Regions from separate parts of the Homo sapiens genome. Here region 1 is linked to region 2. Evidence: fine-mapped expression QTL. A gene starts in region 2. The other region holds a variant in brackets. All regions are shown on one strand. Distances are between the middles of the regions. Region 1 overlaps ATAD2B (ATPase family AAA domain containing 2B). Region 2 holds the start of MFSD2B (MFSD2 lysolipid transporter B, sphingolipid).

Region 1 (5,378 bases), 130 kb before region 2:
ACCACTGCACTCCAGCCTGGGTGACAGAATGAGACTATCTCAAAAAAAAAGAAAAAGAAAAAAAGAACCCAACTTTACAAAAAAATTTTTTTTTAATTAGCCAAGTATGGTGACATGCACCTCAGCAGGCTGAAGCAGAAGAATGCAGTGAGCCATGTTCGCACCAATGCACTCCAGCCTGGATGACCCTATCTCCAAAGAAAAAAAAAAAAAAAAAAAAAAAAAGCAAAATGTATAAATTGGAGTTCATTAAAATTACAAATGGGCCAGGCATGGTGGCTCAGGTCTGTAATCCCAGCACTTTAGGAGGCCAACATGTGTGGATCACCTAAGGACAAGAGTTCGAGATCAGCCTGGCCAACATGCTGAAACCCCATCTCTACTAAAAATACAAAAATTAGCCAGGTGTGGTAGCGCATGCCTGTAGTCCCAGCTACTTGGGAGGCTGAGGCAGGAGAATCGCTTGAACCCAGGAGGCGGAGGCTGCAGTGAGCCAAGACTGCACCACTGCATTCCAGCCTGGGCAACAGAGTGAGACTCTGTCTCAAAAAATGAATAAATAGGCCAGGTGCAGTGGCTCACGCCTGTAATCCCAGGACTTTGGGAGGCTGAGGCGGGCGGATCATGAGGTCAGGAGATCGAGACCATCCTGGCTAACACGAAGAAACCCTGTCTCTACTAAAAACACAAAAAAATTAGCCAGGCGTGGTGGCAGGCGCCTGTAGTCCCAGCTACTCGGGAGGCTGAGGCAGGAGAATGGCATGAACCTGGGAGGCGGAGCTTGCAGTAAGCCGAGATCATGCCACTGCACTCCAGCCTGGGCGACAGAGCAAGACTCCATCTCAAAATAAATAAAATAAAATAAAATAAAATAATAAACTTCTGCTCTTCAAAAGATACTATTGAGAGAATAAAAAAGACAAGCAACAGACTGTCTTGTCTTAAAAATATTTGCAAATGACATATCTGTTAAAGGTCTAATATCCAGAACATATAAGGAATCTCAAAACTCAATAATAAGAAAACAAACAACCCAATTGAAAAAATGGCCAGAGATCTGAACAGACATTTTACCCAAGATTTAACACTGTCAAAAAGAAAAACAAATGAAAAGATGCTCCAACACCATTAGGGAAATGTAAACTAAAACTATAATAAATACCTGTTAAAATTAATTAATTAATCTGAGTATACCAATTGTTGGCAAGAATACAGAGCAACTACAGCTCTCATACACTCTTAGTGAAAATGGTATAACCACTTTAAAAAAGAGTTTGGTAACTTCTTATATCTCATCATAAAACCCAGCCTTTCTACTCCTTGGTATTTGTTAGAAATACAAAAACATATGTCCACACAAAGACCTACATGTGAATGTTCATCACAACTTTATTTGTAATAACCAAAAACTGGAAAGGATCATAATGTCACATAACAAATGAATGGATAAACAAATTGTGATATATCCACACCACAGAATGCTATTCAGCAAAAGAAAAAAAAAAAGGAATACACAGCTGGATGCAGAGGTTCAAGACATCACAGTGCTTTGGAAGGCCAAGGCAGGAGAATCCCTTCAGGCCAGGAGTTCAAGACCAGCCTCGGCAACACAGCAAGATCCTGTTTCTACAAAAAAAATTAATTAGCTAGGCATGGTGGTTGTACACCTGTAGTTCTAGCTATACAAGGAATTGAGGTAGGAGGATAGCTTGAGCTCAGGAGTTTGAGGCTGTAGTGTATTATATTTGTGCTTCTGAACAGCCATTACACTGCACCATGAACAACATAGTGAGATCCCTTCTCTAAAAGATAAACTTTTAACTTTTTCCTTCTGCCAGCAAAAAAAGAAAAAGAAAAAAAGAAAACAACTAAGTTATTGGCCAAGCTGCAGCCGTATACTATTTTTGTGACCTCGGGTAAGTCACTTAACCTCTTGGACCATAAAGATACTCTCCCTAGGCCGTGCACAGTGGCTCACACCTGTAATTCCAGCACTTTGGGAGGCCAAGGTGGGCCAATCACCTGAGGTCAGGAGTTCGAGACCAGCCTGGCCAGCATGGTGAAACCCTGTCTCTACTGAAAAAAATATAAAAATTAGCCAGATGTGGTTGCGGGCACCTGTAATCCCAGCTACTCAGGAGGCTGAGGCAGGAGAATTGCTTGAACCCAGGAGGCAGAGGCTGCAGTGCACTGAGATAATGCCACTGTACTCCAGTCTGGGTGACTGCAGACTCTGTTTTTAAAAAAAAAAAAAAAAAGAGAGAGAGAGATACTTTCCCTAAAGAACTGCTATAAATTAAAGTAAAGTGCTCAGTAAACTATACAGTGTAATGCAAAAGCATGAGCCATATTATTAAACACAAGCTTCTATAAATAAAATGTACATGCTGTATGTAAATCAATGCTGCTACCATGTACTTTGACTTTCTTTCAGTTGCATGTGTGTGCACAGAAGTATATGTAGTAAAAAAAAATACAGTACATAAAACCTATAAGAGATTGCCTTCTTTTAAATTTGGCAATATTAATTTTTTTAAAAGCAGTAGGGCATTTTTAGTAGAGATGGGGTTTCACCATGTTAGCCAGGATGGTCTCGAGCTCCTGACCTCATGGTGGCGGGCACCTGTAGTCCCAGCTACTCGGGAGGCTGAAGCAGGAGAATGGCATAAACCCAGGAGGCACAGCTTGCAGTGAACTGGGATCGCACCACTGCACTCCAGCCTGGGCGATGGAGCGAGACTCTGTCT[CA/C]AAAAAAAAAAAAAGCAGTGGGGCAGAATAAGTTACTCAACTACCAGAAAGAAAAAAGTTATTTAGAGTTGCCTACCTATTGGAGGTGCTTGGTATCGATCCACTGTTTTTCTCTGTCTCAAATTATATGGTCTATCATTTTCTTCTCCTTCTGCCTCTTCAACTTCTATATCTCCATCCTCCTCTTGAGATTCTAGTTTCCCACACACAAAAAGAAAAGAAAAAGGCATTATTTTAATTCAAAAGGATTGGTCTACTCTAGAACTGAATATTTACACTTTATCCATTACTCTTTCTGCACAGGTGACATTTAAGTGCCAACATATTACGTAAAGCATACATAATTAAAAATCAACCTAAATGGATGTAAAAGAAAATACTTTCCCTGCCAATGATCAATACAATTATCTGCTAAATAAATTAATATGATCATATTTTATCTCTTGATTTACTTAGGAACTTTGATTCTCCTTGTTCATACAATGCAATAATAGAAAACAGACTTAAAATTTTACCCAACTACAGCAAACTTCAATCAATGCTCAATTAACCACTAAATAAGATTAGTATTCAAATACCACTTGATAATTCAAAAAAATATGCTTATAGGTAATTACTAATGTTACAGCAAGAGCAACTTTTGTTGGCAGTGTAATGATTTGTTAGGCCTGTTGACCACAGTTAAGCATGGATTAGTTACATTTTGGTAGCAAAGTGCACATAAGCATTGAGAGGGAGCATGAAACAGACTTCTAGGGTATTGGTAATAGTTTATTTCTTGACATGAGTGATCAATTCTTTTTTTTTTTTTTTTTTTTTTTGACACAGAGTCTCTGTCGCCAGGCTGGAGTACAGTGGCGTGATCTGGGCTTCACTGCAACCTCTGACTCCTAGATTCAAGCAATTCTCCTGCCTCAGCCTCCCGAGTAGCTGGGACTACAGGCACGTGCCACCACGCCCGGCTCATTTTTTGTATTTTTAGTAGAGATGGGGTTTCACCATATTGGCCAAGATGGTCTCGAACTCCAGACCTGGTGATCAACCCCCCTCGGCCTCCCAATGTGCTGGGATTATAGGCGTGAGCCACCGCGCCCAGCTATAATTCATTTTTTAAACTGTATACACTTAAAAAATAAATTATAATGTACATAAATCCTAAAAGGTTTTTCTTTTTTTTTGAGATGGAGTTTTGCTCTTGTTGCCCAGACTGGAGTGCAATGGCGCGATCTCAGCTCACTGCGACCTCTGCCTCCCAGGCTCAGGCGATTCGCCTGCCTCAGCCTCCTGAGTAGCTGGGACTACAAGCATGTATCACCATGCTTGGCTAATTTTGTATTTTCAGTAGAGACGGGGTTTCACCACATTGACCAAGCTGGTCTTGAACTCCTGACTTCAGGCAATCTGCCCACCTAGGCCTCCCAAAGTGCTGGGATTACAGGCGTGAGCCAAAATATTATTTTTTAAAAATGATTTGGCAATAGCTATAACATCTAAGTACAGTTAAAATAAGAGTCTAGCTGGACGCAGAGGCACCTGCCTCTAGTCCCAAATACTTAGGAGGCTAAGGCGGGAGGATGGCTTGAGCCCAGAAGTTTGAGTTCAGCCTGGGGCAACATAGCAAGATTCCATCTCTATTTTTTTTTTATTTTTATTTTTTTTGAAACAGAATCTCACTGTCACCCAGGCTGGAGTGCATGATCTTGGCTCACTGAAACCTCTGCCTCTCGGGTTCAGGCGATTCTCATATCTCAGCCTCCCGAGTAGCTGCGATTACAGGCGTGCACCACAATGCCCGGCTAATTTTTGTATTGTTGGTAGAGACAGGGTTTCACTATGTTGGCCAGCCTGGCCTCAAACGCCTGATCTCAAGTGATCCACCCGCCTCAGCCTCCGAAAGTGCTGGAATTATAGGGGTGAGCCACCACACCCAGCCTCTATTTAAAAAAAAAAAAAAAAAAAAAAAAGGCCAGGCGCAGTGGCTCATGCCTATAATCCCAGCACTTTGGGAGGCCAAGGTGGGAGGATCACGAGGTCAGGAGATCGAGACCATCCTGGCTAACACAGTGAAACCCCATCTCTACAAAAAATACAAAAAAAAATAGCCAGGCATGGTGGCGGGTGCCTGTAGTCCCAGCTACTCGGGAGGCTGAGGCAGGAGAATGGCATGAACCCAGGAGGCGGAGCTTGCAGTGAGCCGAGACTGCACCACTGCACTCCAGCCTGGGCAACAGAGCGAGACTCCATCTCAACAACAACAACAACAAAAAAAAAAAGATCTGATGAAAATTAGTAAGCATATGAACGCCCAAATGCAATATGTAACTTTTTAACCACAAGAACTGTCAATACAACACAATCATATTAAAGCATAGAAAAAAATATAAAGCTGGCAGTGATACTTAGGGAAGTAGAAGACTAAAACTGCAAAGGGCTGGACATGGTGGCTTACGCCTATAAACCCAGCACTTTGGGAGGCTGAGGCAGGAAGACTATTTGAGCTCACGAGATCAAGACCAGCCTGGGCAACAAACATATTGAGACCCCATCTCTACAAAAATTACAAAAGATTTAGCCGAGCATGATGGCATGTGCTTATGGTCCCAGCTACTCAGGAGGCTGACATGGGAGGA
Region 2 (5,378 bases):
GGAGGCAGAGGCAGGAATAAAGCTTGAGCCCAAGAGTTCGAGACCAGTCGGAGAAACATAGCAAGATCCTATTCTCCACAGAAAGGAAAAAAAAAAAAAACCCACAAATTGTAAAAGTAGATTATCTAAAGAAACTTTGGCTTTAGTTTATATTTAATTTCCAAGGAATTAAATATTTAGCACATGCATTATCTAATCTATCCTTGTATTTGCAATCAGGGAAACAAAATGTACCCATTTTGTAGATTAAGGAATTAAGACATATAAAATGGAATGACTTGCTCTAAACTGGGTAGTGTATCCTTTAGGATTAGATTTAGCTGTGACAGAAAATCCAGAATAATAGTTGCTTACAAGGTCAAATTTTATTTCCCATGCAAAAGTCCAGAGGGAAGCAGTTCAGGGCTGGTAGATCAACCTCATAAAATCATCAGATTCCTGTACTGTTGATCTGCCAATCTCATCACTCTGTAGACTTGGGGTCTCAGGGTAGCTGCACTAGCACCAGCCGACACATTTGTATTTCAGCCAATAGGAAGAAGCAGATATCTTTCCTTTTAAACAGCTTTATTGAGATGTAATTCACATGCTGTGCAATTCACCCATTTAAAGTATACAATTCAGGCTAGGCCGATGGCTCACTGTAATCCCAGCACTTTGGGAGGCCGAGGTGGATCACCTGAGGATCAGGAGTTCAAGACCAGCCTGGCCAACATGGTGAAAGCACATCTCTACTACAAATACAAAAATTAGCCGGGAGTGGTGGCACATGCCTGTAATCCCAGCTACTCGGGAGGCTGAAACAGGAGAATCACTTGAACCCGGGAGGTGGGGGTTGCAGTGAGCCGAGATCGTGCCCCGGCATTCCAGCCTGGGCAACAAGACTCTGTCTCAAAAAAATAAATAAATAAAAATAAAGTATACAATTCAATGGTTTTTAGTGTATTTATAGGGTTGTGCAACCATCACAATTTAACTTTAGAAAATGTTTGTCCATTCTAAAACCTCACATGCCTTAGCAGTAACTCCCTAGCCCAGTCCCAAGCAACTACAAATGTACATTCTGTCACTCTCTATTTGCCTATTCTAGACATTTGACATAAATGGAATAATACAATTTGTAGTCTTGTGACTGGCTTCTTTTACTTAGCATACTGTCATCAAGGTTCATCTGTGTTGTAGCATGCATTGGTCCTTCATTCCTTTTTCTTGCCCAACAGTAGTCCATTGTATGGATATACCACATTATATTTATTCATTCATAACCTGATGGACATTGGCTTGTGTCCTCTTTGGCATATATATATACACACACACATTATATATATATGTATATATATATGAATGCTGCTAATGAACATTCATGTTCAAGATTTTATGTGAACATGTTTTCATTTCTGTAGGGTGTATACACCTAAGAGTGGAATTGCGGGTCATGTGGTAATTCCACGTTTTACTTTGAGAAACTGCCAAACTTTTCCAAAGGACTGTCACTAGTTTCCATTCCCACTAGCAGTGTATAGGGGTTCTGATTTCTCCACATCCTCCCCAATACTTGTCTCATTTTAATTACAGCCACCCTGTGGATATGAAATGGTGTCTCACTGTAGTTTCGATTTGTATTTCCATGTGCTTACTGTTCATTTGTATATCTTTAGAGAAATATCCAAATTCTTTGCCCATTTTAGAATTGGATTGTCTTTTAATTGTTGAGTTGTGAAAGTTGATTCCAATACAAATCCCTTTTCTCCCATTCTGTGGGTTGTCTTTATACCCACTTGTTGGAATCGTTTACAGCACAAAGGTTTTCATTTTGAAAACTTTTGTAGTTCATCCAGCTTGTGCTTTTGGCGTCCTAAGAAACAATTGCCTGGCCCAATATGATGAAGAGTTGCTTCTGGGTTTTTTGTGTTTGGTTGGTTTTGTTTTTGTTTTTGTTTTTGAGACAGAGTCTCCCTCTGTCACCCAGGCTGGAATGCAGTGGCACGATCTTGGCTCACTGCAATCTCCGCCTCCCGGGTTCAAGCGATTCTCCTGCCTCAGCCTGCCGAGTAGCTGGGATTACAGGCATGAGCCACCGTGCCTGTCCCTTGCTCCTGTTTTTTCATAAGTTTTACATTCTAGGTCTATGATGCATTTTTAGTTAATGTGTACCCCTGTTACTGGTGGAAGGTATCTGAGTCACGTGGCACCAAAATATGTCAGCAGGAGTGAATCTATATGGGTCTGCAGCAACCTCAGTTCCTGCCTCCTCAGAAGAAAGAATTCCACTGAGGGGCATAAGGCAGAAGGAGAGACTGAGGCAAGTTTTAGAGCAGGAATAAAAGTTTATTAAAAAGCTCTACAGCAGAAATGGAAGGAAGGAAAGTACACTTGGAAGAGGGCCAAGCGGGTGACCTGAAAAAGAAGCGCACAGTTTGACCTTTTGACCTGGGGTCTTATGCATTGGCATACTTCTGGGGTCTTGCATCCCTTCTCCCCTGATTCTTCCCTTGGGAGGCCTGCCTGCATGGGCAGTGGTCTGCCAGCACTTGGGAGGGGAGTGTGCACACTGTGTATACTGGAGTTGTACCCATGCTCACTGGAGGCGTTCTTCCCTTACCAGTCCGGTGTCCTTCGAGGGTCACATGTCAGTTAAACTCCGCAATTTGTGTAAGCCCACTTGCCCAGCTCCTGAGATCTTACCGAGAAGCTGATCACCAGTTTCAGGTTTTCTCTATCTATTGGGAGACTGCCTTTCCCTGGCCCCGCTGGATCAATGATCATTTTAGAGGGAGCATAACAACCGCCTGACTGTCGCCTGATGGTTGCCTGACGTACCTGGTTGGAAGCGTGGCCCTCTCCTGCCCTTTTCGAGGCTGACTAGCTACCTGCTGTCACCCCCCTTCCCTTTTAAGGACTTTTCTGGAATGTTGGCCTGTGCCACCTGCTTTTATTCGCTGGCCAGAACTTAGTTACTGGCCATCCCCGTGGTCTGTATAGGAGACTCGACAATGTATATTTCAGGCGTTGGGCATCATGTGTAGCCGGCGGAATGCCTGTTCAGCCATGGTCCAGCCTGAACGAGCGGGCCTCTTGCTTCATTTTGCAGGGGAGCTGCTGCTTGCCCGCGGTCACCCCAGCGGTCTGGCGGAGCCCTTAGCGCGCAGGGCCGCCGTCTGCGGGCGCTCACGCCCCCGGGGATCCACCCCAAGGAGAACGGTCCTGAGGGCCTGCCGGGCCTTTCCCCCCGCGGATTTTGGTTCTTCGCTGTTTCCCTTTGGGGTGCCCTTCGCGGTTTCTGCGTTTCCCCCGCGTTGCCAGCAGCCACTCGCGCCGCGCCCCTAGCCCAGAACCGCCCCTCCCAAGGGCGATAACCCCGAGGGCAACGGCCGCGGGCGGCGCTGCGGTGGCAATGGCGGCGCCCCCTGCACCAGCCGCCAAGGGGTCCCCGCAGCCGGAGCCGCACGCCCCAGAGCCCGGCCCGGGGAGCGCCAAGCGAGGGCGAGAGGTGAGCGGGGCGGCGGGGACCGGGAAGGGGCTGCGTCCTCGGGGAGCTCCAGGGCGTCGCCTCGCAGCCCCTTTTCCAGCTGGGGGCAGCCCGGAGGGGCTCGGCCCAAACCTGCCAGCTCAGGGGCTGCCCTCGCGGGGTTACACGGCTGGGAGCGGGGAGGCTGGTAGGTGCCGGCGCCGGAAAGAGACTAGGACGGGAAGCCTAGCCCTAGCCAAGGAAGTAACTTGGGGATGCGTGGTCATTGCTGTCCTGATTCCCGGCTTAGGGGTCTTGTCCGTGCCACCGCAGGTCCTCCCGGGGTCCCCGAGCTCTGGGCAGGCAGGGCTTTCTGAAGCGCCTGGGGAGGCTGCGTCCTTCCCGACCTCAGGCAGCTGCTGTGGCCTCGGCCTCCCTCCCAGACCCTGGCCTCGCCCAGGCACCAGGCTCCCCTTGGAGGCAGCCTCAGGGAAGGTCCTGGCCATGGGCTCCGACAAGAAGGGAGGAGGGCAGGTGGGAGCGGCGGGGTCTTCGGGGCCCCTTGTCCCTTGCCCGATGCCGCCGGGCCGTGCTGGCCAGTGGGGCTGTGCTGGACGGAGCAAGGGGCCTGGGGCTTCCTGGGCCTCACTGAACGCGCCTGCTCCCTGCTCGTGCCCAGGGCATTCTGTGGCCTCCCCTGACCACCTCAGCCCCCAGCCTGTTCAGGGCTTCCTACGAGGCACCTGGGAGCACAGGATTGCATCCCACAAGAAAGTGAGGTGAGATGAAGGGGCTCTCCGGGGACTCTCACTTCCCAGGGAAACTTAGAAATTCAGGGTGAGATTAACAGCAAGAGGGAAACACTCGCATTGCTGATGAAGTTCCGGCGTGGAATCCTCTTACGACTCTCCGAGGGGTGGCAGCCCCGGTCACTCCAAGGAGACCGAGGTGCCCTGCCCTGGGTCACGCAGCTAGAGATAGCAGGGCTGCGCCCCTCGCCCGGAGCCGCCCCTCCCAAGGGGCTTCTCCTTGTACAGCTCACTGTACAGCTGTACCGGGCTTTTATGACTTTCGGTAAAACTGTCATCCTCAAGACGGCAAGATGGGATCATATCCCTGGCTTCACTTGGAAGTTCTTTCTAAAGTTCTAAAAACTTGCTAGGCCTGTTTTGGGGGATACAAGAGTCCCCATTAGGGGGAGAGGGGGACTGTCACGTTGAATTCTGCCTGTTCTTAAAGTTTTCTGGAAGCTGAAATGATGTTCACACAAATGTCAGAAAAGAATCATCCTGCCCCCAGTGTGGTTTTCCCCTGTGGGTAGGAAGAGTGTGCAAAGTGTGATAAACCCTTATCTGGGGAGACCTTCCCTTCACAAGAGCCTGCTGGGGTGTCCTGCAAGATGTGGAAATGGGTGAAGCCATGTCATCTCCACTCCCTCCAGCCCCCAGCAAACGATGAGAAAAGAGCCCAGCTTCTTCCAAAGAAACAGCACTTTACACAGGGTCTTCATGGCCATTTATTGCTTCAACGGATATATACTAAGCACCTACTGTATACCAAGCTTTGTTCTAGGTACTGGAAACACCATGATAAATAAAAGGTGGAGTTCATGCTCTCAGAGAGCTTACATTCCTGTAGGGAGAGGCAGGAACTAAATGAAAATATAGCAGGCGGTAAGTACAACTGAGAGAGGTGAGAGGTTAGGGAATGCCTCTTGGAGGAGGTGACATTTAAGCTGGTGACATCAAACCAGAATGACAAGGAGTCACCTTCCAGGCAGAGGAATGGGAAGGGCAAAGGCCCTGAGGCAGCAACAGACTTGATGATTTTGAGGAATAGGAAGGAGCCCGGCGTGGCTGAAGGAGAGCTATTTGAGGTGAGGTGGGTAGGGGGCCGACTGGGTGGACTCCTTAGCCATGATCAGGACTTG

What was found. PIP is the estimated chance that this variant, and not a neighbour inherited with it, causes the effect.
Region 1: its variant is the best candidate, but not a certain one, in a credible set for the expression of MFSD2B in whole blood (INTERVAL, PIP 0.76).

The regions. Positions count from the first base shown.
Region 1 is chr2:23,877,815-23,883,192 of GRCh38, forward strand. ATAD2B (ATPase family AAA domain containing 2B) reads right to left here. Exons shown (of 28, transcript NM_017552.4): 7 at 2,825-2,941. Among named protein-coding and RNA genes, the nearest start is that of ATAD2B, 47 kb to the right of the region's middle. The variant CA/C (reference allele first, on the strand shown) is at 2,748.
Region 2 is chr2:24,006,703-24,012,080 of GRCh38, forward strand. It overlaps MFSD2B (MFSD2 lysolipid transporter B, sphingolipid), which reads left to right and starts at 3,383. Exons shown (of 14, transcript NM_001346880.2): 1 at 3,383-3,490. The coding sequence starts at 3,395.